Linked DNA regions of Homo sapiens. The gene in region 5 interacts genetically with the main gene of each other region. Each region holds a gene or a part of one and is shown on either strand. Other genes may lie near its edges. The genes, in order: RAB21, GARIN1B, PPFIA3, HAVCR2, PTP4A3, ZNF507 and REPS1.

Region 1 (3,500 bases), on a different chromosome or scaffold from region 5:
GAAATAATATGAAAATTAAGGAAAGTACAGACAAAAAGTAGCTCTTAAAACTGCCCAGCAAAATGGATAAAATTTGTAGAGTTCCCTCACAGGGCCATGAGACACTATCCCAAGAGTAACTCTAAAGCTATTCTCAAATCTCATGATGAGGTTCTCTACTTCAATAACCAATTCCTCCTTGGACCTTATATTTCTTGGATTTTACATTGTCTGTGTGTATACCACAGAGGCTATTCTATGCTTTGCCTCTTTTCCTGTCCATTTCCTGTTTAATTCTCAGAGTGCCCCATCAGGCATTTGCAGAGAGGCTCCTTGTAGCATTTCTTGGCGAGTATGTACATTAGAATGTCATAAAATTTCATTTGAGTTTATATGGTAGTTTTAATGGTTTGCTTTGAATCTCCCATTAGATGTATTAAATTAAGTAACTGGCACATGCAATTTCTAGTTGCAAATAAATAAAAAGCAAAAACAGCAAAATTATCTTGAAAAACTGAAGAAGTAAAAAACTTCACATATACTTTAAAAAATTCCATCACAGACTAAGGATTTTTGGACACAAAATTCTACTCAGTTTTCAACAATGTAGCAAAAAATGGGGGTGAACACCTCCAGTTCTCTAGTTCCAGTGTTTCCAAGAGATGACAGGTATCATCCTAATGAGCTTCAAAAAACCAGAGCAGAGATGTAAGTGAATTCAAGGACAGCATTACTAAAAATTATGGCATATAAAAAATTTAGAATTCTTCATGCAAATACCAGGTAGCTGGAAGCTTCTGTGTAATTTATAATTTACTGATCACAAATAAAGGCTTTTTTTTTCTTCTTTTGCCCAACTCTGAAAGAGGTATTAGTTAACCTTAAATTAGTTAAATTTGTGACTAGAGGTCATAGAAACAGTCATAGTCTTCCCTAATGATGTTTAAGCTGACTTTAAATGTCAGTAGAAGGCATTATTACGCTAGGGACATTCCCAAATTTCTCCATTTTATTAAATATAAGGTTTTGTTCTGTTTTGTTTTGTTTTCAAGCAGTGCTTGGCTTAGAACAGCTGCTGCTGCTTCTTTTTTAAGCACCACTACAAATACCATGATGCTTTGACAATATTTTTAAGGGGCTATTCATGGATTCTTAACTTTTAATATTCTGAATCACAAATCTTGCTCATTTTTATTTCTCTAATGAAATCCATCCATATTCCTAGAATTCATTATCAATAGAAAAGGACAAATAAAAGTCACTTGCCAGACTAGTGGTCTTAATCATCATTGAACTCTTTAGCTCTTAGTTCCATATTTAAGAAAATTCCCCCCAATTTTCAATAATCTTATCCCTGTCAAACATTCCACAGATGAGAATTGCTTACACATGGTGATTACTATGAAAATAATTCGACATCTAGTTAACAACTTTTAACTTTTTTTTTGAGACAGAGTCTCACTCTGTCACCGAGGCTGGAGTCCAGTGGCACCAGGTCTGCTCACTGCAACCTCCGTCTCCTGGGTTCAAGCAATTCTCCTGCCTCAGCCTCCCAAGTAGCTGGGATTACAGGGGCTCACTACCATGCCCGGTTAATTTTATATATATATAATATATATATGAAATATATATAAATTTATAAATATAGCTGGGCTCGGTGGCTCACGCTTGTAATCCCAGCACTTTGGGAGGCCGAGGCGGGCGGATAACAAGGTCAGGAGATAGAGACCATCCTGGCTAACACGGTGAAACCCCATCTCTACCAAAAAAATACAAAAAATTAGCCAGGCGTGGTGGCGGGCGCCTGTAGTCCCAGCTACTCGGGAGGCTGAGGCAGGAGAATGGTGTGAACTCGGGAGCCGGAGCTTGCAGTGAGCCGAGATAGCGCCACTGCACTCTGGCCTGGGACAGAGCGAGACTCCGTCTCAAAAAAAAAAAAAAAAAAAAAAAAAAAAATATATATATATATATATATATAATATATATATGGTTTTGTTTTGTTTTGTTTTTAGTAGAGACAGGGTTTCACCATGTTGGCCAGGCTGGTCTCGAACTCCTGACCTCAGGTGGTCCACCTGCCTTAGCCTCCAAAAGTGCTGGGATTACAGGCGTGAGCCACCATGCCACAACTTTTAACTTTTTTTTTTCTTTTTTCTTTTTTTGAGACAGGGCCTCACTCTGTCGTCCAGGCTGGAGTGCAGTGGTGCGACCTCAGCTCATTGCATCCTCTAACTCCCAGGCTCAAGCAATCCTCCCATCTCAGCCTCCTGAGTAGCTGAGACTACAGGCACACACCACCACACCTGGCTAATTTTTGTATATTTTTGGATAGAGATGGGGTTTCGCCATGTTGTCTACACTGGTCTTGAATTCCTGGGTTTAAGGGATCCATCCACCCACCTCAGCCTCCCAAAGTGCTGGATTACAGGCATGAGCCATGGCTCCCAGCCAGCTTTTAACACTTTTGATTGGAAAGGGCCAGCTTTAGTCTTAGCAGAGCAGCAAATGTCAGCCTCAAGGCAACATACCAAAGTAGTAAATTATTAGCCTAGAACCTAGAACCCAGAACCCAAAATCTACCATCTCCTTCCTTTAACAATGCCCTTTCTGACCATCTTCAAGAAAGTTCACCCAAAATTATGTCTTTCGCATAAATAAATTTCTTATGCCACTACTTTTGGCTAAAATCTTTTGATGGGGATGAATTACTCCTCTCACATCCTCTAGCTTTTCCTTTACAGGACTTTTATGTTTTGAAGAACTCATTAAATCACTAAATTTACTAACCTTTTGTGAACTAGTAAGAATGAAAGTAACTTGTGTATAACCAACTAATGGGATAGTTTGTGTGTGTGTGTTTAAACGGATGATTTCGCTCTATTTTCTAACCAGAAGGGCCAGGAGGACTAGATGATTTAACTTTATTATATTGTAATATCAAAAATATCCTTAAAAGACACTGAAAAGATGTTTAGAAAATTCATATTCATTAAACCATCTTTCTGACCTGTATCTTCAATTTCAGATAGAAAAAAAGGGACCCACACTCTTAAACTGGAGAGTGCATTTAGAATTACACAAACTATCCTACTATGACTCAGGAATGGATTGTGTTCTGGCTTACTGTGTGGTGACAAGGCCACATCTGTCAAAGGCAAAGAAAACAACATGATTGCTTTTTAAATTGTATTTTTTCTAGGTTAAAAAAAATCACCGCAAAACCAAACCAAACCAAACAAAAATGGCTGCTGTCTAAATAAGCAGGAGGCATCAGTTTATTCACTGCTACCACAAAATTTGGAAAAGCAATTTGGGTTAGAGGATCACTTAATTACCCCCTTGAAGCTAGAAAGTAAGTTATTCAATTTTAATCTGGCTTGAAAATGTATTATTTGCAAAATTCAAAAACATTCTTTCCAGCTTTACCTCAAATTCACTGTCAGCTTCAACTACTGTCATTCTAATTATCTCACTCCAAAAGTTTGGCAGGTACATATCTGATCAAACACAGAATGTGAACA
Region 2 (4,123 bases), on a different chromosome or scaffold from region 5:
AAAGTGCTGGGATTACAGGCACGAGCCACCGCGCCCAGCCAAAATTTCTTTCTTGAAAGCACCAAAGGAGCTTGCCCCACTGTCTGGCTTGTGCATTTATTGAGTTTAATGCCACAGTTAGTCTTCCCAAGGGAGTTAAAGTTCAAGGATCTGGCTTTGGATCTAATATTAGTCAGCTGGGACTGGGTGGTACTTGCTAGAGGTACACCAAGAACATCATGGAGAGGTGTGTCACTGAGGTAGCATGGAGAAATGAAGGGTTTTCTTGGACTTTTGGGAATTTCTAGAGATTCTTGAGATATCCTACAGATTATTTAAAGAGGCCCCAAAATTTAAAAAGGCTACTTCGTCCCAGACAAGCATGATGTCACTATATGCTACAGCTCTAAGTGAGACTTAGTCCCATTTATTTTACTGATTAAAAAAAAAAAACAAAAAAAACCTGGCCGGGCACAGTGGCTCACGCCCGTAATCCCAGCACTTTGGGAGGCTGAGGAGGGTGGGTCACCTGAGGTCAGGAGTTCAAGACCAGCCTGGCCAACATGGTGAAACCCTGTCTCTATTAAAAATACAAAAATTATCCAGGTGTGGTGGCAGGCACCTATAATCCCAGCTACTCGGGAGGCTGAGGCAGGAGAATCACTTAAACCTGTGAGGCAGAGGTTGCAGTGAGCCAAGATCCCACCATTGTACTCCAGCCTGGGCGATAGTCTTTTTTGAGACTCAGTCTCAAAAAAAAAAAAAAAGAAAGAAAGAAAAAGAAAAAGACAAAGAAAACTGAGGAGCAGCAAATAACTTGTGATTTTAAAAATTGAGTCCAGTTAGTTGTACACCAAGAACTAGAAATAATCTCCTTTCCCCAACCAGTGCTCCATCTGCCAGACTCACTGCCTCCTTGCCCTTGGGCCCAATGCTGAGAGATTTCCTATGAATTCAGTGGCGTCTGTGCAGCGAGAAAGAAAGTGGGCAGGTAGACTAGCCCCTGACTCCTGTCCACATGACATCTCCCTTTGTCCCACTTGGCCTCTGTCCTTCCAGTGCAACACCTGTCTTAGGATACTCTGTTGTCTAAAAAAATCAATGTCACTGCTGATGACATCTCTATCTTCTCCTTGAGTTTAGTAGTCAAGCAACCTCCACTTTGCATCCACCCCTCACCCCTCTTGTCCTCCATTCTCATCTGCATTGCTCACCTCTTCAGGAAGATGTTGGGGGCTATGGATGGTCTGTTCCATGTCTGGTTCTGCCCCTGGTGCCATTTGACACTGGCCATGAGTAGGATGTTGGGGAGGGGCAGGCAGGGTACCGAGGAGGTCACCCCCAGGGCCATGGTGTTGGAAGCTTTGTAGACGTCTCTCCAATTCCTGCCCCTTTTGACCTGCAACACAGCCCCCAGGCACAACCTGAGCATTTGGCAAAAGCTGCAGTCTGTTTCAGCCCAGGGTTTCTCAACCTCGACACTATTAATGTTTTGGGTTGGATATTCTTTGTTGAGGGTAGGATACTGCCCTGCACACTAAAGAATGCTTAGTAGCATCCTTGACCTCTACCTACTAGTTCTAGTAGCACTACCAGCCAAATCGTGACAATAAAAAATGTCTCCAGACATCGTCAAATGTTCCCTGGCAGTTGGGGCCAAAAATCAATTCTTGTTGATAGCCACTATATTGATTAAACAACTACTAGTATTTAAACAATATTTCAACCACCCATTTGTTAACAATTGCCCACAGGAATTACAACCCAGGAGTTCCCTGCCATCTGTCATTTCTGCCAATCCTCCCTGGACTGTTTCCTGGCCTTCTTTGAAAAATGTATCCTCTTGGTCCTTCCCCGAGGTGCCCTATTATCTCCTGCACCTTCACTGAACAGGAAGGTCCTCTCTAACTCCAAAGTGCTGTTCATTCTCGCTTCCATCCAACCAGAGGAGAGCCCAGGCAAGGAGACGAACGTGCACCGAGTGCCTGTTAGACAAGGTACTTTTCTTGCTGTATTTGCATTTCATCCTCAGGTCAGTTCAACCCTTTTACAATCAAGGGGCCAGATTCAGGCTGCACAGGTTACTTGCACAGTCACCTCCCAAGGAGAAGGCAGAGGACTGGAATCTGAGCCCAGCTGTCTCTGGGACCCCAGGTGCTGTTCTTTCGCCAATCCGCATTATTGTTCTCAAGAAGCGTCTCTTTTTACTGCCTCTTTGTTCATCTACTTCAGGTGACAGCCTGGGGGCTGAAGTAAACTGGGGGATTAGATACCAAATTCTCCACTCAGAGCAGAGGACCCCTGACCTTTCTCCCTGGGTGACAGCTGTCTGTAGGAGAAGCCCCGTCTGGGGCTCAGCAAAGCCCAGGTCAGTGAGGGTGGCCTTGCATTCCAGGTCCACTAGCTTCTCCTTGCCTCAATTCTCACTCTGCCCCAGTTTCAGGGATGGACTCTCTCAGTCATATCTTGGGAACAGGTTTCGAAGAATCAAAGAGTGCTATTCTGCGCCACCCAAGAATACCTGGATGAAGTTGCTTTCAAACACCACGGAGTCAAGAAACAGGTTGAATTCTGGAGAATGAACCACCCGGCAGAGCAGTCCCTCCTCCACACCTAGGCCCGCTCCAGGGTTCGGCTCTCCATCCACAGGCAAGAGGCCCCTGAATTCTTCCCAGGCATTCAGGGAAGGGAAGGTTGGATAGGATCTTGTGACTTTTACTGTCTTCTTTGATTTCCTCCAAGTCTTTCTATGTGGAAATGATGACAACATTTCTACACATGCTCAGGGGCCTGCTGCACATTTGTCCTGGGATCTCTGTCTCCCCTCCTGGCCTTGGGCAGCTGGCCAAGCCCTGGGACCACCAGTCAGCTCACAATGATGAATGGATGACATCATGAAAAACCAGGACAGACCTGCAGGAAGGGGAAGTGCAAAGGAGCCTCCCTTTTCCTCCAGAGAGCTTGTGTGCCTTATCCGTGCCTGGACATTCCCCAGCCCTTTTCGGAACCCCAGGACATAGTCCTCCCGGAACTTGCTGAGAAAGCAGTGAGCCAGGCAGAAAGCAAGCAAGGAGGGCTGTCAGGAAGATCCTTCCACTGCTAAGAGGAAAATGCCCTTCCTGCCTTTCAACCCTTCCTTACTCTGAATGCAACCTATCTCACACAACTTTAAAAGCTGCATGTCCATTGAAAACCCCATCTTCCTAAGCTTTGCAGCATGTGGGCCCCCGACACCCTGGTGGATCTGCAGGTTATGGAAGCAGTTGCAGGGCAGTTGGTGCCTGCTCTGCATTCTGCCGCGGCAGGCTGGTTACTTCTGCAGGACTTACTTCCCTTAGGAGGTCAAACTGAAGAAGCAGGAGAAGTAATTAGTTTCTTATCCAGAGGCTGGCTTTGTCAGGGCGCTGGCTGGGAGGAATAGAACCCCGATGAGCAGCTCTGCTAGGTCCCAAGCTGTTCCCCCTCTTGGAGAGTGACAGCATCCCTCACCCCTGAACCAGAGGAGGAAAGAGCCCAAATCATGGGCTGCTAGGTCAGGAAGAAAGAACCAAGCAGGCTGACCACTATTCAAGGCCATTCCTGGGAGAAACTGTTTTCTAATTTGGACCAAATTCTAAATTTTTTTTTTTTTTGAGATGGAGTCTCGCTCTTGTTGCTCAGGCTGGAGTACAATGTGCGCGATCTCGGCTCACCACAACCTCTGCCTCCCGAGTTCAAGCGATTCTCCTGCCTCAGCCTCCCGAGTAGCTGGGATTACAGGCATGTGCCATCACGCCTGGCTAATTTTTTGTATTTTTAGTAGAGACAGGGTTTCTCCATGTTGGTCAGGCTGGTCTCGAACTCCTGACCTCAGATGATCCGCCCACCTCGACCTCCCAAAGTGCTGGGATTACAGGCATGAGCCACTGTGTCTGTCCCAAATTCTGAACTTATTACATAATGAATTAACCATCAAGGTCAAATGTAACACATATAGACAGAGTTTGACAATCATTACACACAAAGGACAAGCATGGAGGCTGACTTTTGTATTTCATTATAAAGTCAGGGAGAAGCCTAAAGGGCCTGGAGGCTCTCACCATCCAATTCCATCAGTCCTTCCCTCTGGTCATTCAGATCACACCCCTGCTCCAGCACCTGTTAT
Region 3 (3,500 bases), on a different chromosome or scaffold from region 5:
GTGTTGTAATCCGCTCCTCCATATCTTCCCGCTGCGCCAGCGCCTGCGGAGGTAGCAAAGGGCCCCGTGGACTGCGAGCCCCTGGGGGAGAGGACGGGGAACCCCCTTGTTCCCTGGGAAACAAAGTGCCCTGACATGGGAGTCAGAATGGTGGTGTCACACCCGCTAAGAGCTCCCAGGACTAGCCCATCTTAAGTCCCTGCCACCTACCTGCGAGTTAAAATGGTGATGCTACACCTCCCATGAGCTTCTAGGACACTGCAGGCTCAGATCCTCCAGGTTCAGAGGATCTGAGGCCTGTGGGATGTGAAGTCTCCACTCCAGCCCTCTCCTCAAAACCCAGGCCTTGGATTTCTCACTAATTTCTGGCATAGAGCAGACTTAGAATCAAACAGCAAGTGTCCTGGGGTCTCATGGGAAATAAGGATCCCTTCTACCTAGAAGGCAACACCTCTCAAGAGCTACCAGGGTACCAGAGGCCTAGAACCCCAAAAGAAGTGCTTCAACTTCTTATGGGAGATGGACCCTCATCTGGTAGCCCACGTGGTGGGGCTACATTTCCCAATAGCCCCTGCGGCTATCCAGGCTTAAAATCCCAGATGAAGGTTCTCTCTCTCTCTTTCTTTTTTTTTTTTTTTTTTTTTTTTTTTTTTGAGAGAGAGAGTCTTGCTCCGTCACCCAGGCTAGAGTGCAGTGGTGCGATCTCGGCTCACTGCAACCTCCACCTCCTGGGTTCAAACGATTCTCCTGCCTCAACCTCTCAAGTAGCTGGGATTACAGGCACCCGCTGCCATGCCTGGCTAATTTTTGTATTTTCAGTAGAGACGGGGGTTTCACGATGTTGGCCAGGCTAGTCTTGAACTCCTGACCTCAGGTGATGTGCCTGCCTTGGTCTCCCAAAGTGCTGGGATTACAGGCATGAGCAACCAGCACTCTGGCTGGAGTGCAGTGGTACGGATCTCGGCTTACTGCAACTTCCACCTCCCAAGCTCAAGTGATTCTTATGCCTCAACTTTTTTTTTTTTTTTTTTTTTGAGACGGAGTCTCGCTCTGTTGCCCGGGCTGGAGTGCAGTGGCACTATCTCGGCTCACTGCAAGCTCTGCCTCCCGGGTTCACGCCATTCTCCTGCCTCAGCCTCCCGAGTAGCTGGGACTACGGGCGCCCGACATCACGCCCGGCTAATTTTTTGTATTTTTAGTGGAGACGGGGTTTCACTGAGTTAGCCAGGATGGTCTTGATCTCCTGACCTCGTGATCCGCCCGCCTCGGCCTCCCAAAGTGCTGGGATTACAGGCGTGAACCACCGCACCTGGCATGCCTCAGCCTCTCTAGTGGCTGGGACTAAAGGCACCCACCACCACGCCCGGCTAATTTTTTTTTTAAGTAGTGACGGGGTCTCGCTATGTTGCCCAGGCTAGTCCTAGTGCTCACTCTTCTTTCTCATCCACTGCCTTCAAGAATCCAGGTCCACATTTCCCAGCAGCTCCCTGGGGTCACTGGGATTAGGATAAAGCGGCCTAAGCCAGAAAGGGGTGAAATACCCACAAAACATTCCATTTAGAGGCTGGACGCAGTGGCTCACACCTGTAATCCCAGCACTTTGGGCCGAGGCGAGCTGATCACTTGAGGTCAGGAGTTCGAGACCAGCCTGGCCAATATAGTGAAACCCCATTTCTACTGAAGATACAAAAAAAAAAAAAAAAAAAAATTAGCCAGGTGTGGTGGTGCACACCTGTAGTCCCAGCTACTAGGGAGGCTGAGGCAGGAGAATCGCTTGAACCTGGGAGGCAGAGGTTGCAGTGAGCCAAGATCCCGACACTGCACTCCAGCCTGGGCGACACAGCTAGACTCCATCTCAAAAAAAAAAAAAAAAAAAAAGAGGCTGGGTGCGGTGGCTCACTACTGTAATCCCAACACTTTGGGAGGCCGAGGTGGGCGGATCAAGAGTTCAAGACTAGCCTGGCCAACATAGTGAAACCCCATCTCTACTAAAAATACAAAAAAAAAAAAAAAAATTAGCGGTGCATGGTGGCAGGTGCCTGTAGTTCTAGCTACTTGGGAGGCTGAGGCAGGAGAATCTCTTGAACCCGGGAGGCAGAGGTGGCAGTAAGCCAAGATCACGCCACTGCACTCCAGCCTGGGCGACACAGCCAGACTCTGCCTCACAAAAGAAAAAAAAAATCCATTTAGAGGCACCAGAGAAGAACCCAAAGTTAGGTAACAAAGTAATTACGAGCAGTTATGGAGCGCCTACTCTGCGCCACAGGCTCACCCTCTGATGAGAATCATACATTTCCTTTCACAGGTGGGAAAACTGAATCTCAAAGAGGAGTCACCCAGCCTGTGGACTGAATCGAGGTTCCGCCATTCATGAGCAATGCGCGAGGGAGAGCTCTACGGAAAGGCGAGGGACCCAGGGCAGCCCGCCTCCCTGGGGGCCTCACCTCCTTGAGGTCGCGCTGCAGCTTGGAGTTGGCTTCCTCTGCCTTGCCCAGCTCACGGTGCGCGGTGCCCAACTCCTCCTCCAGCTGGCTCATCTGACGGCACAGCACCGCCAGGCGCTCCCGCAGCTGGCACACCTCGGCGCGCTGCCGCTCCAGGGCCTCCTCCAGCTCTGCTGTGCGCCGGTTGGAATCCCCGCCAGGACCCAGGCCATTGGCAAGAGTCTGGAGTGAGGGAAGGAGGGGACAAGATCCCAGAGTGTCTCCGGAGACACAGAGGAAATCCAAGGAGAAAGTCAATCAGCTGAAAGTAGATCAAAGATCAATAAGGATCATGCTGGTCAGAGTCCACGGGGGTCAGTGAAGGAGGTCACAGAAGTTCGCTAGGTGACCTGAATCAGAGGTCCAAGCTCTGTGACACTCTTACAGGTGCAGCCGTCTTAGGGCCAGTGAGGATGATACCAAACGTTACAAACACTATCACAAAGTCAGGGAGTTGAATGGAGCTCACGGAGAGGGGACTTCCATGTCTCACCTGCCCATCCCCATCCTTGCCCGGCTCTTCCAGCCCTGACCGCCGCCTAGACAGCTGTTCTCGAAGGTTCAGAGTCTGGAAGTGTGAAAGGGGAATCAGAGCACAGGGGCTCCCTGAACCCCCAGCTCTAGTTCTCACTGGCATTGGCCCTCTAAGGGGATAGGCGGCCCCATATGAGATGCCTCCGGTCGTGCTGGGGCCATGCCTACCCCACGGTTTACCCTTAGGCTCCCTCCCTCCTTATATCCCTCCTTAGCTGCCACCACGGAGGGCGTCTACCCTTACTCTTCCCCTTAGCCTCCTGGACAAAGTTTCCGCTTTAGCCCCGCTTTTCCCCATTCAATCACTTCCTCCTTAGTCCCAGCCTGAGCCCCAGCCCCTGGTTCTACCCTTAATCTCACTCTCACTGGGAGATTCTCCCCGTAGCCCTGCGCAATGCGTGCCCACTTAGGAACCCCACTGGTTTCTCTCCATAGTCCAACCCCATAGCTTGTCTGCCCTAGTCCTGCCCCAATAGATTCTCT
Region 4 (3,500 bases), on a different chromosome or scaffold from region 5:
TATGTGTGTGTACAAAGCATCAGATTTCCTCTAGATCCCATCACTCTTTATACAAACTAGAATAAGTGCTAATATGTATAAATTATGGTCATATTATATATATATATATATATATATATACACACACACATATATATATAAAGTGGTCTCTAATATATATAATAGTAAAGCTCAAAGTTTTACTTTGAGCCATGGCAGAAGTCAAAAAAGTAGTGAGTGTTATCAGTGCTCCTTAACAATCCCTAGTCTGTTTTGGAAATACTCAAGTGAGGCTAAGTGCAATGACTCATGCCTATAATCCCAACATTTTGGGAGGCTGAGGTGGGAGGATTATTTAAGCCCAGGAGTTTGAGACCAGCTTGAGCAACATAGCAAGATCTCATTTCTATTTTTATTTTATTTTATTTTATTTATTTTTTGAGATGGAGTTTCACTCTTGTTGCCCAGGCTGGAGTGCAATGGCACGATCTCAGCTCACTGCAACCTCCGCCTCCTGGGCTCAAGTGATTCTCCCACCTCAGCTTCCCGAGTAGCTGGAATTATAGGCATGTGCCCCCATGCCCGGCTAATTTTGTATTTTTAGTAGAGATGAGGTTTCTCCACGTTGGTCAGGCTGGTCTCAAACTCCCAGCCTCAGGTTATCCACTCACCTCGGCCTCCCAAAGTGCTAGGATTACAGGCGTAAGCCACCGTGCTCAGCCTCTATTTTTAAATATGTATATATTCATCACGCCTGTAATCCCAGCACTTTGGGAGGCTGAAGTAGGAGGATCACCTGAGCTCAGGAGATTGAGACCAATTTTCTGGGCAACATGGCAAAACCCTGTCTCTACCAAAAAAAAAAAAAAAAAAAAAAAAAAAAAAAAAAAAAAAACTAGCCAGGTGTGGTGGCATATGCCTGTAATCTCAGCTACTTGGGAGGCTGAGGCACAAGAATTGCTTGAACCCAGGAGGCAGAGGTTGAAGTGAGCCAAGATCACACCACTGTAGTCCAGCTCCCAGGTGACAGAGTAAGACTCTGTCCCAATAATAATAAATATATATATATATGTGTATACATATATATACATATATATATATTCATGTGATCAATTCAAAAATTCCATGGCTATCTCTGAATAAACCCAGGTAAGTGTGGGTGGGGTAGTTTCTTTTTCTGAATAATCCATTTAACCATAATCGCAGAAACCATAAAGATGAGGAGCAGGACAGTCCTGGTTTCAAATCCAGTATCTATCAATTAACTGTGTAAATGCAGGCAAGTGACCTAACCTTTTAGCATGCTGATTCTCCATTAGAAACATATTAGTACCTATCTCATAGGGTAGTTACGAGAATTTAATGCACGTAAAGCACTTGGCAGCTTCAGTCCACAGTTAGTGGGGGGACCAACTCATGTTTTTCTTGGACTGTTCCAGTTTTAGCCCTAGAAGTCCCATATATCTTAGGAACACCCTTTAGTCTTGAGCTAATCTGAGGTGATTGCTCACTCTACACACACAGTCCCTGTTTGTGTATTAGTAAGAAAGGCTGCTATGTCATATTACGCTCTGGGGCATAAGGACTTGGTTTCTGCCCTAAAAGAAAATAAAATAGACACAATTATAAAAGTGTGTGAGTGGCCAGGCACAGTGGCTCACGCCTGTAATCCCAAAACATTGGGAGGTCGAGGTGGACGGATCACAAGGTCAGGAGATCAAGAACATCTTGCCCAACATGGTGAAACCCTGTCTCTACTAAAAATATAAAAATTAGCCAGGCGTGGTGGTACATGCCTGTAGTCCCAGCTACTCTGGAAGCTGAGTCAGGAGAAACACTTGAACCCGGGAGGCAGAGGTTACAGTGAGCTGAGATCGTGCCACTGCACTCCAGCGTCCATCTCCAAAAAAACAAAAGTGTGCGAGGTTTTGGGGGTACTGGAAGTATTTAGATCTTGATTGTGATGATGGCTTCCTACTGTAATTCTCCATCAAAATTCATCAACTTCAACACACTTCTTTTTTTTTTTTTTTTTGGAGACTGTCTTATTCTGTTGCCCAGGGTGGAGTGCAATGATGCAATCACCGCTCACTGCAGCCTCCTGAGCTCAAGTGATCCTCCCACCTCAGCCTCCTGAGTAGATGGGACTACAGGTGTGTGCCACCATGCCCAGCTCATTATTATTATTATTACGTTGTAGAGGCAGGATCCTGCTTTGCTGCCCAGGCTGATCTTGGTCTCAAACTCCTGGGCTCAACTGATCCTCTCACCTCAGCTTCCGAAAGTGTTGAAAATACAGGCATGAGCCACTGCACCTGGCCATTGTATTTATTTATTTATTTATTTGCTTATTTATTTATATTTTATTACTTTTTTTTTTAAGACAGTCTCACTCTGTCACCCAGGCTGGAGTGCAGTGGCATGATCTGAGCTCACTGTAACCTCCACCTACCAGGTTTGAGTGATTCCTCTGCCTCAGCCTCCTGAGTAGCTGGGATTACAGGCATGCGCCACCACACCCGGCTAATTTTGTATTTTTAGTAGAGATGGGGTCTCACCATGTTGGCCAAGCTGGTCTCGAACTCCTGACCTCAAATGATCCACCCCCCTCAGCCTCCCAAAGTGCTGGGATTACAGGCGTGAGCCACTGCGCCGGGCCTGTTTTTTTGTTTTTGTTTGTTTGCTAGTTTAAAAAAAAAAAAGGGATAAGTAACTTAGAAAAAGCTATGTGCTAAGTACCATGATGGAGGAAAACATTCTCTAACCCCAGTCACGACCCAGTGTTAAAGGGACTTGCAGTCTACTGCCAGAGAGGTATGCCTGAGAAACCAATAACAGAAAAGTGCACAGAAGGAAGTGTTTTTTGTTGTTGTGTTTCGTAACAAACCTAGACATATTCATGAATTAAAGAAATTAGTTTACTGGAATCAGCCTGCCTGGATTTGATTTCCGGTTCTGCCAGGTACTGATGTTGAAACCTCGGGAAGGCAGCTTACTCTAAGCTTGACTTCCCTTCACTGTAAAATGGGGATGGTACTATTCCTTATCTCATAAGACAGTAATGATGATAAAATGTATGTAAAACATTTAACGCAGTGGCTGCCTGACACACAATAAATATTAAATAAAAATTAGCCATTATTGTTAGGATTTGGATGGACAAAAGGGTATTTAGTCTAATCATCTTTGGGTATAAACATGAATTTGCATTTCTATCTAGGTTTTTACTGGTTCTCACTGAAGAATTTGTTATCAGAGGGAGAGAGAAACAAAAACACTTACATTTGAAAATTAAAGCGCCGAAGATAAGAGCCAGAGCCAGCCCAGCACAGATCCCTGCTCCGATGTAGATGCCTATTCTGATGGTTGCTCCAGAGTCCCGTAAGTCATTGGCCAATCTAGAGTCCCGTAACTCATTGGCCAATGTGGATATTTGCTATGGAAACACAAACAGGATTTAAGCAGAAAACAGCTAGAAATCGCTTGTGTAATCAGCTTCAAGATTTGTGAATTGGACCATC
Region 5 (3,500 bases):
ACGCTGCAAACGGCCCCAGGCCTGCAAACAGCAGGGCGTTCTGCAGAGGCCAGGCTCCTCCAGGAGGCCATGCAGGTCGCTCCAGACTCCACTCCCAAGAAAGCTTCTGTAAACGCATCTCGTCCCATCTGCCAGGGTTGCCAGCGGCAGGTATCTCTGCTGCCTCTCCAGGGCACAGTGGTCCCTCCCTCCTGTGGTCAGCGCTGACCCTTGCTCAGTCCCTCCTCACACAGAGATCTGGGCCCTGAAGCCCCTAGTCCAGCCTGGTCTAACCTGAGGCCTCATCCAGAGCCCAGCAACATCTGGGACAGCAAAGGGCTCGGGAGGGCCCCAGCCCAGGCCACGGCTGAGCACGCACAGCCTGGTCCATGTATCCCCCTGCCTCACCCCCTGCCTCTATCCACACAGCGTGGAGTCCCTCCTATCACACGCCAGCCCCCTGCAGGCCTCCCAGGGGACCCCGTTGATCCCCCAACACCCTCAACCCCAACCCCCGGGGCACCCCCATCTCCCTCCTCCAGGATCCTGTAACAGGCGACTGGGCTTTGTTCCAAGGCTGTGAGCCCTGTCTGGCCAGCCGGGGCTGGGGACCCCTCTTGCGAGGCCTGAGGGCAGCTCAGCCGGGCTTCCCAGACACCTGGGCCACCTGCCTGCCACACCTCCGTCTCCACTCACCTCAATGAAGGTGCTGAGCGTGGCGTTGGTGGGGTTGTGGGTGATGAGGAAGCGCATGTGTTTGTAGCTCACCTCCACCGGGGCCGGGCGGTTCATCCGAGCCATGGCGCCTCCCGACGGGCCCGGCAGGGCAGAAGGGACTGCAGAGAAGGCTGGGGACACGACCTGAGAAGTCCCCACACACCCCCAAAAAATGAGGAGAACGAGATCCCTGTGCTTGTCCAAGAGAAACGAGATTTAAAAACCCACCCCCATACCCCGCACAAATATTGTGCAAATACTTGGGTGTGGGGGAGGAAGCTGCCCACTGTTTGGATAATTAAAAAAGAAAACCCAACTCTTAAAAAAGAAAAGGAACAAAACAGCCCGCCGCCCCCCCCAACCCAACCAAAGTAAAGCGGGCAACTCCAAACTCCCGTCTCTCAGAGCTGGATAGTCATAAAGAGGCAAAAAATAAAAAGAACAACCAAAAAAGCTCAGCAAAGAAAACTTAAAAACTCAAAGTGAACCCGGCCGCCAAGCAGTGTCCAGAGCTGGACCCCACACCGGGGGCGCCCTCTCCACATTGGTGGATGGGCAGACAGCCCCCTTCACTCAGAGGTGGGCCCCAAGCCCCCAAGGGCCAGAGGAAGAATGAACTTGAACTGAACCAACTCCAGCTGCCTTGGGCCAGGGGTCACGGGCAGTGGCCGTGGGGACAGCGGCCTCTGACGTGTGGGGCCTGTGTCACGTTACCCCATCGGGGTACGGTGAGTCCTGGAGTGGGGCAGGGGGCTCAGGCGGTAGAGCTGGCCCCAGGCTGGGCAGCAGAGGCCATCGGCAGGCGAGGGCAATGGTGAGAGCCAGTGGCACGGGGACCCCTCAGCAGGAGGCGCGGCGACCCTGGGCGCAGCAGTGCTTAGGGCTGGGCCCCGTGGCCCACTCCATGAACCCCAGGTGGGTCCACAGCACACAGCATCTGTGGGGAAAGACGAAGGAAATGAATAGAAAGGGATCACAGGGGGCCCCGCCTCCCACAAGGGGTTCATGCCTGTCATGAGCCCACAGTCACAGGCGACACCTCTCCCAGAGCCCTCCTCCTGACCATGCTGAGAGAATGACCCTTTTGGGTCTATTTCCTTATATGGGAGCACAAGGAAGCACGGCTCCTGCCAGGACTGACCCAGGGCCCAGAGGCGACAGGGTAGCCACCACACAGCCAGCAGGGCATGACGGAGGACAGAGGGGACAGGGATTTCAGGGACACACACACCCCCGAGGACATGATGAACCCCAGCACACAGATGACAGATCCCTCTGTGGGGACAGAGGCCGAGTTCCTAAGAAGCCTGAGCCTGGCCCCTGCCCACCTGCTGTGATCTGCGGAAACTCCACCCCAGGACAGCTGCCCTCTCCTCTTCCGATTCTCAGCCACTGTGAACATCTGAGCCCAGGTGTCTCTGGGTGGCCCATCCTCAGGGAATGGGGCCCAGGCACTCGGTCAGTGCTGCCAGCACAGGGAGGTGAGGGGCCTGGCCCCACACGCGGCCGTGGGCCACCCTAATCGCCTCTTGCTTTCTGCAGAAAGTCTCCTGCCTGTCAGCAGCCCCCTGTCCACCAGTGTCCCCCCGCCACTGTGTCTCCACTGCTCACACAGGTCTCAGCCAGGCTCGGGGATAAACAGGCCAGCTCTGCCCCTCCAGGAGCTCAGGGAGGCGGGGACAGAACACGCCAATGGGCCAGCCATCAGGCACACATGCCAAGGTGGTGACAGCACAGGTGGCCAGGAGTGGGTTCACACCATGACAGGGCCCTGAAGAGGGGAGGCGGCAGGGGGGGCCACAGCAACCCAAGGCACCTCCACGCCTGCCTCTCTCCCTTTCTGGGTCTCATGACCCCAAAGCTCCCAGGCAAAGGGGTTCCAGGAGCACGCAGCCCCCTTCCCTCTCTACGGAAGGGCTGGGAGGCCTTGAGCAAGGTGCCGGCCTCTTTGTTACCCCATGAGCACGATGAGGGGTGACACAAGTGACCCAAGCTGTATTTGGGCACTGCTGCTGAGGGGTCCCCGCACTGCTGGCCCTGGCTGTGACCCAGCTGTTAGCAGACTCTCCAGCCCCCTAGACTCAACCCAAGCCCGGCCCTGTCACTACTGCCTGCTACCCAAGGAAAGGCACTTCAGGGCCCCTCGCCCAGCAGAGCCCTCCATTCCCCAACCCACCCCCTCTCACCTGTGCCCCTGCCCCAGCCCCAGCACCCCCTTCCCAGCTGCCCACCAGGCAGGCTGGGCCCTTGGAGCTTCAGCCCAGGTGCAGGTAGGGCTTGAGGCCTGGGCCCCTGGACTCAGAGGGTGGCTACCTGGGACAGTGGGCTCCTCCCTGCCTGCCCTCCACACCCTGGGTGGCAGCCAGTGCTCATGGGCTCAGAGCAGCCGCCACACCTCAGGCTCTGTCCACTGCATGGTTCTGGGAAGGTTAAAATGGGCGGTGGGTGTCAGGCGCAGTGGCTCACTCCTGTAATCCCAGCATTTTGGGAGGCCAAGGCGGGCGGATCACCTGAGGTCAGGAGTTCAAGACCAGCCTGACCAACATGGAGAAACCCCATCTCTACTAAAAATAAAAAAATAAAAAATGAGCCAGGCATGGAAGTGCATGCCTGTAATCCCAGCTACTCGGGAGGCTGAGGCAGGAGAATCGCTTGAACCCTGGAGGCAGAGGTTGCAGTGAGCCGAGATCGCTCCATTGCCCTCTAGCCTGGGCAACAAGAGCAAAACTCCGTCTCAAAAAAAAAAAAAAAAACCGGTGGTGGGGTGGGACCCCCAGAAGGAGGTAAAGGTGGAGACAAGGATA
Region 6 (3,500 bases), on a different chromosome or scaffold from region 5:
CTATTACTCATATCCACATATATGGTTTTTTTTTTTTTCCCTGAAAGGGTAAGGGACATCAGAGAAGGAAAAAATTGATATCCCAGTTGTGTTTCAGTTCCAGATATGAACAGAGTCCTTAGAAGAGGTTATTTGTTCGTTCTAATAATGCATTATGGCTGAGGAAGTCACTAAACATAAAATACCCATAAATCTTTCTGCCTAAGTCTAGAATACTCTTTCTATTTCCTGGCAGTACTTTCATTTCAAACATTTCCTTTGGCTTAAAGTGAGATTAATTTGTTGACTTGGATCACATTTTTAAGTTTAGGCTTTTTTCCAGCAACAAGTTTTGTTTTTCCACATTTTAGGTGCATTCTGGAATCTTACTCACAACATTCAATAAATGCCAACAAAATTTTTAGTGGCACTAGCTATAGACCAAAGACCACACTATTCTTAAACTTCAGTCCCAGGCTCTGAATTCTTATTTTAGGTGGTGAATCATGGCTGTTCTTCCCCGCATGGTTGAATCAACATATAAGGGCCCTTCAGCCCCTGCCAAGATGATACCTAATGTCCTGCCAGGCCCCGCCCGCCCCCACGCCACACACACACACATATACACAAACACAAAAACAGGCCCCGCCCCCCCACGCCACACACACACACACACACACACACACACACACACACACACACACACACACAGCTGACCAGCTTCAGTGCCAGGTCGCCCACAACTCTGGGCAGCAGCTATGGCTTTTCTTCCTGATTTTCTACTCCTTCTGGCAAGCCAGCTTTCTAGATCTAGGTCCACATCAGGCAAAAATGCAAACACTTTACTCTTGGCTTCTTCAGTACTATTTCTTCCCTTCTTCCTAATAATACTCTGCCCTATGGCATCAGCTTTTTTTCTCTTGGCTACTAGCTGTCTCTAACTGCCCTCACATGCATTCCATGGCCATTCCAACAATGACAGCTACCCTGGCTCCCAAAGGCCCGTGGTCCTTCAGCCACTCTCCCTTAAACAATCTCTCAAAAGACTAGTTCTGTTTCATCTTTCTCAGGTAGAAGGAACAAAAGTCTTTTTAGATCTCTACGCTCAGCTGTAAGTCATTAAAGAGGAGACCAATGGGGGAACAATTTGTTTCCTTAGAAAAACCCTTTTGTGACTTCCTAAGTCACTTTATTGTCTTAGAATTCCACATTTTTAGGCCAAGAGGAGCTGTGGCTCTTCATGTGACTACTGATTTCCCTTTAAGGTGATTAACTTAAGGCCTTATGTCTGTCAGTTCAATGGTTAAATGCAAATTGATTAAATAATAAGTTTAATAATAGGAATCCTCCTGAACACGATACGGCTCTCTGCTGTAGATCTAAGGTCTCCTTCCCCATGAAATGTAACACCCATGTAGGCTGACTGATCATCTGGAGGTTAACAAGTGAATGTTTGCTCAAGAGACTTTGCACACCCGTAGGGTTACAAAGGTGACTCATGTTATCTTTCTTCTACTTAATAAGAGAAGTGACACAGACCAGTGCAAATTGCTCCCTGTGGATATTTCAGTGTGTACCTTAAAAAGAAAGTGAAATGAAGAGAAGGAGGAGTTCATCTTAACTCAAGAAAAAGACTAATACAAAAGAATCTGACAAAACATTCAGATTTTTAAAGCTGTGTCGGCTCAGGCATTAAGAGCTAATGGAAATTTGCAGCAGATGCTCCAATTTTCCCTGAACATTTATGTAAGTATCTCATTTTAAAGGCTGCATACATTTGGGGATAAGTACAGTAATGGCAGCTATAAAACAGATATGACAACATGAAATACGTCAGGAAACACCTGAAAAACCAGTTTGGGTCCCCATGCAAAATCAATGCACAGGTTAATCTCATAAAAACAAGTCTCTGTTAAAAAAAAAAAAAAAAGGTTAGATAAACAGCTGATAATAAAGTATACACAGAGGGGAAGTTACTGTAAGGCCAACTCTTTCAATTTTCACAAAAATGTTACTTAGACCACTAATGCAGAAATACATATATATGAGATTGTGTGTCAAGTGAAGCAAATCTGAACAAAAGAGATGAAATAAGGAGTATACATACAATGTCAGTGGCTCAATAGTGATGACAACATAAACTATGACAATCTGCATACTCTCCTTGGCCTCCAAGAGATCAGTGTAAGCACAGCTTTAAAACAATTACCTTGGTGATACTGCAGTGGTGGGGTGGATAGGATGAGAATAAAGAAAGAATGACTAATTCTGTAATTGAAGTTGCATGATGAGTACCTAGGAATTCACTGTTCTTTCTACTTATGTAAATGTTTAACATTTTTCATAATAAAAAGGCTAAACAGATCATAATAAAGTATACACAGAGGGGAAGTTACCTTAAGGCCAATCCTTCAACTTTCTTGATTCCTTAAAATCACAGAAATTTTATTTAGACCACTAATGCAGAAATACAAATATGTGTGTGTGTGTAACAAACAAATTGTTATGTGCAAGGCGCAAGGCAAAGTATCAGGAAAAATTTTAAATTCTTAATACTTGCAGTTTAAAACTGAGTTGAGTGGATAAGGCAAACATTTGGAAGTTAAAAAGTAACAGCATTTAAACAACGCAATGGTACACAAGGTAAAATAAAAGGCAACAGTCAATGACTAAATCCTGAAAGATACTGAAGAGCTCTTTTGGGCTAGCAAGGTAAGCAAAAGCTTCATGGAGAGGTAAGATGTCCACTGGTTCCCAAAGGATGGGCAGCATGCCAGACATCATCCATTTGCCCTCTAGGCTCACTGTATCCTCCTTTCCATTCTGCTCTCTGTCAGAGGGATTACATCACTAGGCTCCCCTGTCCTCTGCCTTCTGGTTGAGGTCAGCCAATGAAGAACCATGACAGATCAGAGGGAGGTAGCAGAGTGAGATCAGAATATTCATCGTCCTGGTTCTCTACCTCTAGGTCACCTTGGATTGGCTGTGTTCCTCAATAGAAGGCTATTTCTTTCCAGGTAGGCTGCTCTCCAAGACCCTTCTTCTGATTCTGATGCCTCTCCCTCTCCTAATGCTGCTAGCTCCAGATAACTGCATTATGCTGTGGTTTGCTTATTGAAGTCCAACACCTTTATTACTAATATCTTTGTAAATATACCTTCCTTGAATTATCCTCATTTCAACGTGCCATTTGCTTCCTTGGAATACTGCTGATACAAGTTGACACAAGGGTAGCAGTGACCAGAAAAGCAGCCATGACATGACTATATTTTTAGAAGTAAGAATAAGCATGCTATCTGGGGGTGAGTGAAAAGATCGATATGGCTGAATAGGAAAGTTCACCAGGAGGAAAGAAGACGACAGGCATTAGCAAAACAGGAGATTTCTTGTTTGTAATGTTTAGACATAACAACATTAAATATATTAAATTGTTACCAATAAATAAGTAATAAACAAAAGTTGTATCCCAAACCAGAAAAGTTCTATAACCCTTTCCACCAACTCTCTCAAATCTTTCCTTG
Region 7 (3,500 bases), on a different chromosome or scaffold from region 5:
ATATTTAATAAAGCCCAATTATTTGTTTCTTTTCCTTTTCTTTTTTTTTTTTTGAGACAGGGTCTGGCTCTGTTGCCCAGGCTGGAGTCCATTGGCGCAATCTCGGGTCTCTCTGACCTCTGCCTCCCTGACCTCTGCCTCCCAGGCTTAAACCATCCTCCTGCCTCAGCCTCCCAAGTAGCTGGGACCACAGGTGCACACCACTATACCCAGCTAATTTATTTTATCTTTTTTTTTTACAGGCAGGGGTCTCCCTATGTTGCCCAGACTGGTCTCAAACTCCCGGGCTCAAGTGATCTGCCCGCCTCAACCTCACAAAGTGCTAGGATTACAGGCATAAGTCACTGTGCCCAGCCCTGTTTTGTAGTTTTAAATACAAAAATCTTGGTGACTCTTTTCTTAAGTTTATTCCCAAGTATGTTAGGCCTCTTTGAAGCTAATGTGAATGTATTTTTTTCTTACTTTCATATTAAGATTTTATGTTACTACTACACTGTTAATCCTGCCTCAGTTTGTAGAAAACAAATAAAAGCCATTAGGCCAGAACATCCTCCCACTAAATCTATATTCCACCCACTAAATCTATATTCCTACTTGCGTCTGTAACCATGTTGTTCTTTCTTCCCCACTGTTAAAACTGAGGAAGTGGCCGGGCACGGTGGCTCATGCCTGTAATCCCAGCACTTTGGGAGGCCAAGGCAGGCAGATCACGAGATCAGCAGTTCGAGACCAGCCTGGCCAACATGGTGAAACCCTGTCTCTACTAAGAAGACAAAAATCAGCCAGGCGTGGTGGTAGGCACCTGTAATCCCAGCAACTCTGATGGCTGAGGCAGGAGAATCGCTTCAACCCGGGAGGCGGAGGTTGCAGTGAGCCAAGACCAGGCCATTGCACTCCAGCCTGGGCGACAGAGCGAGAATCCATCACAAAAAAAAAAAAAAAAACAAAAAAAAAAAACTGAAGAAGTATCCCCTTCCTATCAAAGGACTCTGTGCAGTCAGGATCCTGACCACTCCTGCTTTCTCAAGGACTTCTCATCTCCCTTATCTTAGCAATCCTAACAACTAAAATCATTCTGCAGAATTTCTCACACTCAAAAAGAAACAAACAAAAAGATTTCCTTTATATCCTCATACATCTCTAGCTTCTACCCTGTATCTATTCCCTTTCATAGGTAAACTTCTTTAAAAGCTATCTATACACCCTGTCTCTAGTTCCTCAGCCATCATTTATCCCTCAAATCACTCAAATCTGGCATCCATCTACACTAGTCCATGAAACTGGCTCACTGAAGTTACTAATAACTTCCAGGTTGCCAAATCCAATGGCCACATTCCTGCCCACATGTTCTCAGCCTCTCAGTGAAATTCAATACAGCTGACTACCCACCCCCTTGAAATACTTGCATTATTTGGCATCCACGACATGATAATACTATATATTACACATTCCCAATTTGTACCACTCTGATTGTGTGCTTCCTAGCGTCCTTCCAAGAAGCCTTCCAGTTTACCCAACTTAGAAATGTTCAGCATTCCTCAGGATTCCAGTTCTAGTCAATCTTTCTCTCTTCTTTATAATCTTTTCTTCAATTATTTCATTACCTTAAGTATCACTAACATAGTGACAATCTTCAAACTGACATCTCTAAGCCAAGTATCTCTGAATTCCTCAAGATGTATAGATCTCTCTAACAGGCCTACTTGACAATCTTACAGGCTTCTGAGAACTAAGATAGACAAAAGGGGAACTGCTGAATTCACCCTTACCTCTCCCACGAAACAATCCCCCCCAAAATCCACTCCTCTTCCAACCATCCAATAGTGGCAACTTCCAGCAACATCCTTGAGTTCTTTCCCCTCCCTTATGTTCCATATCCAACCCTATTTATGCCTTCGTATTTCTACCACCTAAAAAATTCTCACAGATGTCCACTGCTCTCTATCCTACTGCCACCTCGCTAATCTAAGCCATTGCTGTCTGCTGCCTGGACTGTTGCATATCCACTAGCGTATCTGCTTCCACTTGCCCCCAGTATTCTTTTTGCTCATACAGCAGTCAGCATGATCTTTTAAAATATAATTCAGATGATGCTACACCCCCGAATAAAAACTTTTAGTATATTTCCACTAAAATCCAAATTCCTTATCACTGAGTACAAGGGCCTGCCTTATGCAGTCCCTGCCATTCTCCCCTCTTGTCCACAGTTTCAGTTCCTTAAACACACTGTGCTCTTCACAGCCTCAGGCCCTTCCCAGTTCTCTCTATATGAAACACCTTATTCTCCCTCCCCTGACCCCCCATCCAGGCATCCTCTAAGGGGCCTTCCCTTACACCTAAGTAGGTCCCCACTACCTCCTCTGATTCTACCACCCAATGATTCTCTATTATTGTACACAGTTCTTTTTTCCTTTTTTTTTTGTGGGTGGGGCGGGGGGGGGGGGGAACGGAGACTTGCTCTGTCACCCAGGCTGGAGTGCAATGACACTACTATGTTTACTATGTCTCATTGCAGCCTCAACTTCCCAGGCTCAAGTGATCCTCCTGCCTCTGCCTCTCAAGTAGCTGGGACTACAGGTGCAGGCCACCACGCCTGGCCAGTTCTTTTTCTTTTCGACATTGGCACAAGTCAGAGAAGATGTCTTGATCCTTCACCACTGCATGTATACCCCCAATACAAAGAACAGCCACAAAGAAGTCTTTGTTGAAAGTATTTAAAACTGATTTAAGACAGAAGTGTTTAGCATTTCACAGGTCAGCCTGCTCTTCCTTAAAACTGAATTAATGTAGAAGTCCATAAGATGAGCTTGACTCAATTAGGGGAAGGCTGGAAATCACAAATTAAGTGCAAAATTCTGTGGAACTATGTTTTCTAAGCAGATGTCCAGTGCGTGCAGCAGAATCTCAACGGAATCAACAGCCCAAAAGAGACAGACTAATAAATTCTGTCTTCATTATTTAATGAGACAGACCCCAAATTCAACACCTGGCTAATTCTTGAAACAAAATGCAGAAGAGATGTAGTATTCTTAATTTTAAAAAGCCTAAGTCTTAGAATTTATCAAATCTCAATGAAATCTGGTATACAGTTTAACTTCCATTAGACAAATTTCTTACACAGAGGGAAAAGATGAGTGAAGATGCATCTATAATAGGAAAGGCTACAGAAAATAAAACCTATATAAGGGAAAACATCAGAAATGACAAGTCTTATCACCCATTTCAAATTCTCACGACCTTGAAGAACTAAGCACCCATGGATTTATGACCCTTTCATCAGTTTCCTCTTGTATATATCTCCTCTTTGTATTCCTCAAAGAATGTCAAATAATCCTGTTCCAGTGTCAAGATAGTGGAGCAACTAACCACAAGACTTTGTGCTACTTTTAAAGGGGTGTGGCTGGAATAGATTAGCCGCTCCTACACAAAGATACTCTCATTTGAGTCAGAAATCATGAAAACCCAATCCCATAGCTATATCAGACATTCTGTGATTTGTT

The links.
Region 1: changes in PTP4A3 (region 5) and RAB21 together harm fitness less than expected from each alone (positive genetic interaction), as found in Homo sapiens cells (one study listed by BioGRID).
Region 2: changes in PTP4A3 (region 5) and GARIN1B together harm fitness less than expected from each alone (positive genetic interaction), as found in Homo sapiens cells (one study listed by BioGRID).
Region 3: changes in PTP4A3 (region 5) and PPFIA3 together harm fitness less than expected from each alone (positive genetic interaction), as found in Homo sapiens cells (one study listed by BioGRID).
Region 4: changes in PTP4A3 (region 5) and HAVCR2 together harm fitness less than expected from each alone (positive genetic interaction), as found in Homo sapiens cells (one study listed by BioGRID).
Region 6: changes in PTP4A3 (region 5) and ZNF507 together harm fitness less than expected from each alone (positive genetic interaction), as found in Homo sapiens cells (one study listed by BioGRID).
Region 7: changes in PTP4A3 (region 5) and REPS1 together harm fitness less than expected from each alone (positive genetic interaction), as found in Homo sapiens cells (one study listed by BioGRID).

Annotation. Positions count from the first base shown.
Region 1 is NC_000012.12:71,792,863-71,796,362, reverse strand, and holds part of RAB21 (ras-related protein Rab-21), read right to left. Parts: 3' UTR 1-3,500. UniProt on the Homo sapiens protein: The small GTPases Rab are key regulators of intracellular membrane trafficking, from the formation of transport vesicles to their fusion with membranes.
Region 2 is NC_000007.14:128,714,068-128,718,190, reverse strand, and holds the start of GARIN1B (Golgi-associated RAB2 interactor protein 1B), read right to left. Parts: upstream 2,801-4,123; 5' UTR 2,750-2,800; coding exon 2,501-2,749; intron 2,492-2,500; exon of another isoform or gene 1,860-2,491; intron 1,379-1,859; coding exon 1,194-1,378; intron 1-1,193. UniProt on the Homo sapiens protein: RAB2B effector protein required for accurate acrosome formation and normal male fertility. In complex with RAB2A/RAB2B, seems to suppress excessive vesicle trafficking during acrosome formation.
Region 3 is NC_000019.10:49,129,544-49,133,043, reverse strand, and holds part of PPFIA3 (liprin-alpha-3), read right to left. Parts: intron 3,052-3,500; coding exon 2,977-3,051; intron 2,667-2,976; coding exon 2,445-2,666; intron 44-2,444; coding exon 1-43. UniProt on the Homo sapiens protein: May regulate the disassembly of focal adhesions. May localize receptor-like tyrosine phosphatases type 2A at specific sites on the plasma membrane, possibly regulating their interaction with the extracellular environment and their association with substrates.
Region 4 is NC_000005.10:157,092,045-157,095,544, forward strand, and holds part of HAVCR2 (hepatitis A virus cellular receptor 2 precursor), read right to left. Parts: intron 3,416-3,500; coding exon 3,262-3,415; intron 1-3,261. UniProt on the Homo sapiens protein: Cell surface receptor implicated in modulating innate and adaptive immune responses. Generally accepted to have an inhibiting function.
Region 5 is NC_000008.11:141,419,521-141,423,020, reverse strand, and holds part of PTP4A3 (protein tyrosine phosphatase type IVA 3), read right to left. Parts: exon of another isoform or gene 1,634-3,500; 5' UTR 781-1,633; coding exon 676-780; intron 1-675. UniProt on the Homo sapiens protein: Protein tyrosine phosphatase which stimulates progression from G1 into S phase during mitosis. Enhances cell proliferation, cell motility and invasive activity, and promotes cancer metastasis.
Region 6 is NC_000019.10:32,348,610-32,352,109, reverse strand, and holds part of ZNF507 (zinc finger protein 507), read right to left. Parts: intron 2,997-3,500; exon of another isoform or gene 2,757-2,996; intron 1-2,756. UniProt on the Homo sapiens protein: May be involved in transcriptional regulation.
Region 7 is NC_000006.12:138,978,254-138,981,753, forward strand, and holds part of REPS1 (ralBP1-associated Eps domain-containing protein 1), read right to left. Parts: intron 1-3,500. UniProt on the Homo sapiens protein: May coordinate the cellular actions of activated EGF receptors and Ral-GTPases.